2 separate regions of the Homo sapiens genome follow, and region 2 is linked to region 1. Evidence: fine-mapped expression QTL. A gene starts in region 1. The other region holds a variant in brackets. All regions are shown on one strand. Distances are between the middles of the regions. Region 1 holds the start of ZNF12 (zinc finger protein 12). Region 2 has its middle 6.3 kb from the start of ZNF316.

Region 1 (2,904 bases):
AGCCTGGCCAACATGGTGAAACCCCCATCTCTACTAAAAATTCAAAAATTAGTCGGGCTTGGTGGTGTGCACCTGTAATCCCAGTTACTTGGGAGGCTGAGGCAGGAGAATTCCTTGAACCAGTGAGCCAAGATCTCGCCACTGAACTCCAGCATGCACAGCAGAGTGAGACCCTGTCTCAAAATTAAAAAAAAAAAGAGAGAGAGAGAGAGAATCTGAGAAACAGACATATTTTCAGATCAGGAATATTGAAATGATTATGTAAATGGAGAAATGCAGTCAAAACTGCATTTTCTCTAGTGGGGATTGTGGGAAGTCAACCAACTTCCACCAGACAGAACATAACTTGCATCGATTACCTACAGTTTTCAAAGAGGTGTAAAATACCTCAAAGATAAGGAACAGGGTTGGAATCAAGTAACATGGCTTTCTAAATGTGCTTCGTTTTCCATTAAGACGCAAATTTCTTCTTCTGCTTGCCTCATCCTCTTCAGGAAGTAGAGTTCTGGCTAATTTTTTTCTTCTTTCAATTCTGTACATATTCTCTGAGTTTTCTAGCTATCACTAATTCAAAGTGATTTGGAAAAGCTGGAATTCTTTTTCTCCTTGTTGGGGCGAGGATGGTATCCTGTCCCAGGCTAATCCTCTATTATTTCATCCATGGGCTCTATTTACTGAAGTTTTCGTTAAATGTGTCATTGTGATCATAAGCTAGCATGATGCACCCTCTTGTTCCATTTGTCACGGTTGCACATGGACATTGATTTTAAGCCTTGAGCTCTCCGGTAAGGCAGGACTGGCCCAGGCATGGTCTACGAGATGCTACAGGAAGCAGAGACTTTCTAGACGTTCCCTTAAAGATAGTCAAGACATCCCCATGAAGACGTTCCCTTAAACTAAGGAGAAATTTGAGTCTGGGGTTCGGCGTTGCCAATTCTCTTAGCATAGAGCCTCTTAACCGCTAGACCAGATAGAGACATTTCAAATGGCTCCTAAATTTGGGGAGCGCGTAGGCTCATGGGAAATAGAGTCACGGTATTTGTCCTGGGACCGGCGGCGGGTCCCGGGAGGCGGACTTCCGGTGCATTCCTGCGCATGTGCACCCCTCTCTGTGTGCGTGTTCGCGCATGCGCGCCGCGGCCGCAGTGCCCTCGCTTCCTGTGCGTCCCCAGGTCACCGCTCGCCCTAGTTCCCAGGCTTTGGCCTCCGGTGGGCGAGAATCGCGGAGCCTGCGGGGCTGGGCGCCGAAGAGCCGGGCCGGCACCCAAGCGGGCGCGGGGCTGTGCGGGCCAGGCGGAGGCTCAAGCGGGGATCCCCGAGCACGACCCCCGGAGCCGACGGCGCTGGGGCCCAAGGGGCCGGCCGGGCGGTGACGACGGCGGAGGCGAAGGGGCGGCGGGACCCGGGCCCGGCCCGTGTGCGTCCTCGACGGCCCGGCCCCGGCTCCGCAGGACGGTGAGCCCCAGGGAGACGGATCTGGGCTCCGGGAGGGACGCCCCGCCTGGATTTGTCCCGTAGGCCCGGCCCGGGCCCCTCTGGAGCAGAACGGCCTTGGTGAGGTGGACAGGAAGGGACCTCGCGAGCAGACGCGCGCCCGCGACAGCAATCCCGCCCCGGCCTGTCGGGAGCGGTGGGGCAGAGGCTGCGGAGCCCCAGGAGGGTAAGTCGTGGGTTTGCGGGCCCGGGGCGAGAAGGGCCTGGGTGAAGTCACCGCGTGTAGGGCACCTTAGAGTGAGGGACAGTGGAAGGTCTCGATCGCTTGCAGGAGTGACGTGTGTTTGGGTTTGAAGGCAGGGTCCGGCGAGGACGAGGCTTACGGGGGCGTGGGGGGTGTCACCAGCCTCAGCTGCGGACGTTGTCTCCACTCCCCCCTCACCCCAGCAGCCCTTCCTCCTCTCTCTGCTCCAGATTGCTACCGTATCTAAACGTCCGTCAGCACCTCTGTTCTCTCATTTAAGTGCTGATTCCCCCTTAGGTCTGCTCTTGTGGAATCATACGTTGTAGTGCAGGAACAGCCTGCAGGAACTATCTCTTGCTGCCTCATTTGCTAGGGGAAGGGCCTTAGCAGGTGGGTGACTTGTCCGAGGTTTTGTGGGTGGAGTTGCTCATAGTAGAACTCTGGAGTTTTATCTCCCAGGCCAGTGTTCTGTCCCCCGTATCCTAGTTAAGTGAGCGTAAGTTCTTCAATAAAAGATCCTTTTGAGTAGCACACTGAAGTTTCTGCAAATAAAGACTCAATTATGCCGACTGTATTCCTTTATTTAGGGCATCCTGTGGATTTTCTGATCTTTATTTAAAAGAGTAAGAAAATAGATGAGTATTACAGAATTCATTTTTTGTTGTTTGTTTTTTGTTTGTTTGTTTGTTTGTTTTTGAGACAAGTTTCGCTTTGTTGCCCAGGCTGGAGTGCAATGGTGCCATCCCAGCTCACTGCAACCTCCGCCTCCCGGGTTCAAGCGATTCTCCTGCCTCAGCCTCCCGAGTAGCTGGGGTTACAGGCGCCCGCCACCACGCCCAGCTAATTTTTGTATTTTTACTAGACATGGGGTTTCACCATGTTGGCCAGGCTGGTCACCAGAATTCCTTTTTAAATCTTGCATTTAATGATGGCAGATTATTTCAGTAGGATCCAGTATTCATTCACCATGAGAATCTCATCCACTCAGTCACAAGGTAGCCATGTGTGAGTTTCAAATGTGCAGATCGGTCCCCCTCCTGATCATTTTCCAATCCCTTCTGAAGGCTTAAAGGGACAGTCTCCCACAAGATGTACTTCTTGGAACTTTCTGTGTAGGTTTTGGGCGGGAGATGACCGCCTTGGCAGGCCAGACCGCTCATAACGCCATGGCTTGGGTTTTCCTTCCCCAGATCTGCCTCCGCTTTCACAGTCCTCCAGATTTTTCC
Region 2 (2,904 bases), 76 kb after region 1:
CAGTGAGCCGAGATCGCGCCCCTGCACTCCAGTATGGGCGACAGAGTGAGACTCCGTCTCAAAAAAAAAAAAAAGTAAATCATACCCTTTTTGCACTAGTACAATTCCATGTCAGTCATCTATCTATGAGCAGTTGGTGGGGTTGGGGCTGGGGGAATATCCAAGCATACTCATGAAACAGTTCCTGGGGTGTCATCTGCCTGGCTCCTGCCCATCCTCCACGGTGGGTGCTGGCAGTGAGGAGGGTGCCAGCCCACCCAGTGATTGGCATGAAGCTTGTTCTATGCTTCAGCCTTCGTGTGTCTCACTGGCAGGGACACAGGGTATGTGAAAAGTTAACAGGCATCTGGGGCATTTGGAATTCTGTGAGGCCGAGAGCATCTCCGTTCAAGTACATGGGCCTGCCCCGTATCTGCACAGACCCACCTGCAGGGACTGAACATTGACTGGGCAGAGCTCCCCTTCACTCGGCTCTCGGGACTTCCTCAGCTGTCTCTTCCTGCAGGAAGCCCTCCTGGGCTCCTCCTGAGCTCTCACACCAGGGGCTGGCAGGGAGCCTGGCACAGAAGGATGCTGATGGATGCCCCCACGGAGCCTCTGTGTGCCTGGAGTGGGCTGAAGGCAGTAGTGCTGCTATTAAAACCATAGGTGAGGCTGGGAGCGGTGACTCATGTTTCGTGTTAGTCGGTTCTCCTATTGCTATAAAGAACTGCCAGAGACTAGGTAATTTAAGAAAAGAGGTTTCACTGGCTCATGTCTCTGCAGCCTATACAGAAAGCATGGCTGGGGAGGCCTCAGGAAACGTACAGTCATGGCAAAAGGTGAAGGGGGAGCCAGCACTTCAAATGGTGGCAGCAGGAGGAATGAGAGAGAAGGGAGGGGTGCCACACACTTGTAAACAACTAGATCTCACAAGAACTCACTGTCGTGGTGACAGCTCCAGGGGGAATGGTATCAAACCATGAGAAATTGCCCCCATAATCCAATCATCTCCCACCAGGCCCCACCTCTAACACTGGGGATTACAGTTGAACTTGAGAGGCCAGGAATGGTGGCTCAGGCCTGTAATCTCGGTACTTTGGGAGGCCAAAGTGGGTGGATCACCTGAGGTCAGGAGTTTGAGTCCAGCCTGGCGAACCTGGTGAAACCCCGTCTCTACTAAAAATACAAAAATTAGCTAGGAGTGGTGGCGAGTGCCTATAATCCCCGCTACTCAGGAGGCTGAGGCAGGAGAATCTCTTGAACCCAGGAGGTGGAGGTTGCAGTGAGCTGAGATCACACCATTGCACTCCAGCCTGGGTGACAGAGGGAGACTCAGTCTCCAAAAATAAATAAATAACAATTGAACATGAGATTTGGGTGGGGACACAGATCCAAACCATATTATTCCTGTAATCCCAGCACTTTGGGAAGCCAAGGTGGGAGGATCGATCACTTGAGCCCAGGAGTTCGAGAACAGCCTGAGCAACATAGTGAGACTTCGTCTCTACAAAAAGTAGAAAAAATTAGCCAGGTATGGTGGTGCGAGCCTGTAGTTCCAGCTACTCGGGAGGGTGAGCCTGCAGTGAGCTATGATGGTGCCACTGCACTCTAGCCTGAGCGACAGACTGAGACCCTGTCTCAAGAAAAAAAAGAAAAAGAAAACAAAGCTGGACAGTAGTTAAAACGGTAAAAAACAGATTTTATTCAGGAACTATTGCAATAGGGAAAAGAGACCTCAGTATAGAACTGGGCT[C/T]AATTCTGAATACAGCAGGGACAAGTGGAGACTTCCAGCCTAGGAGCAGGTTGGAGGGGAGTGGGTGGGTGGAAAAATACGAAGGAGTGGGAGGTTGTGGTTGAACTGACTCCCAGGATCCTGGCTGAAGGCAGGCAAGAGTGATCAGAGGGCACCTGGCAGGTGGTGGGAGAGGAGGGATTTGATCAGATACCAAGGGTGGAGATTCTGGCTAAACTGACTTGACAGGATTTTTGCTACAGCTGGGCAATGCAGAGACGGGCACAGACACTCAAAGGTCAAGGCTGAGTGGAGAAGAGGCTCCGGGGAGGCTGAAGGCCGCTCAAGGAAATAGAAAGACTGTGTTTCCAGCCCTGCATGCCTCCTCATCGGCAGTTGAGACCCCACTGCTGCCTGCTCCTTCCCATTCCATTGCGGGGACCTGGACTTGATCTAGCCCTGTCTGGTGGACACACTTTTGTAGGTGCCAGGAGGGAGGAATCTGCTCCTCCTTTCTGCCCCCGACAGCCCCCAGCCCCAGTGGCCACTCACTCCCAGCATGCCTTGCAGCTGCCTGAGTGGGAGACTGTGGTGGACTCGGAGCTGGGGCAGGGAGGACAAGCTTCTTCTGGAAGGGCAATGGGCAGAGGGTGACCTGGTCTTTCACGGTGGTGTCAAGGACCATAGAGCCAGGCCACATTCTCCCCACGTTAACTTTCCCAAAGGGATCAGTTTTCTGCTGAACAATCATTCCCATTTACTGGGAATTATTGGGCAGTGCCTCATGCCTGTAATCCCAGCACTTTGTGGGGGGCTGAGGCGAGAGGATTGATTGAGCCCAGGAGTTTGAGACCAGTCTGGGCAACATAGCAAGACCTCGCCTCTACAAAAAATTTAAAAATTAGAGGTCGGGGCCGGGCGTGGTGGCTCACGCCTGTAATCCCAGCACTTTGGGAGGCCAAGGTGGGCAGATCACGAGGTCAGGAGATCGAGACCATCCTGGCTAACACGGTGAAACCCCGTCTCTACTAAAAATACAAAAAATTAGCTGGGCATGGTGGCGGGCGCCTGTAGTCCCAGCTACTCGGGAGGCTGAGGCAGGAGAATGGCGTGAACCTGGGAGGCGGAGCTTGCAGTGAGCCGAGATTGCGCCACTGTACTCCAGCCTGGGTGACAGAGTGAGACTCCGT

Evidence for each region. PIP is the estimated chance that this variant, and not a neighbour inherited with it, causes the effect. A credible set is the group of variants that fine-mapping cannot tell apart.
Region 2: its variant is the best candidate, but not a certain one, in a credible set for the expression of ZNF12 in whole blood (INTERVAL, PIP 0.64).

The regions. Positions count from the first base shown.
Region 1 is chr7:6,705,188-6,708,091 of GRCh38, reverse strand. It overlaps ZNF12 (zinc finger protein 12), which reads left to right and starts at 1,145. Exons shown (of 5, transcript NM_016265.4): 1 at 1,145-1,660; 2 at 2,869-2,904. RefSeq lists an enhancer at 977-1,476 and a silencer at 1,170-1,529.
Region 2 is chr7:6,629,561-6,632,464 of GRCh38, reverse strand. No RefSeq gene overlaps it. Among named protein-coding and RNA genes, the nearest start is that of ZNF316, 6.3 kb to the left of the region's middle. The variant C/T (reference allele first, on the strand shown) is at 1,736.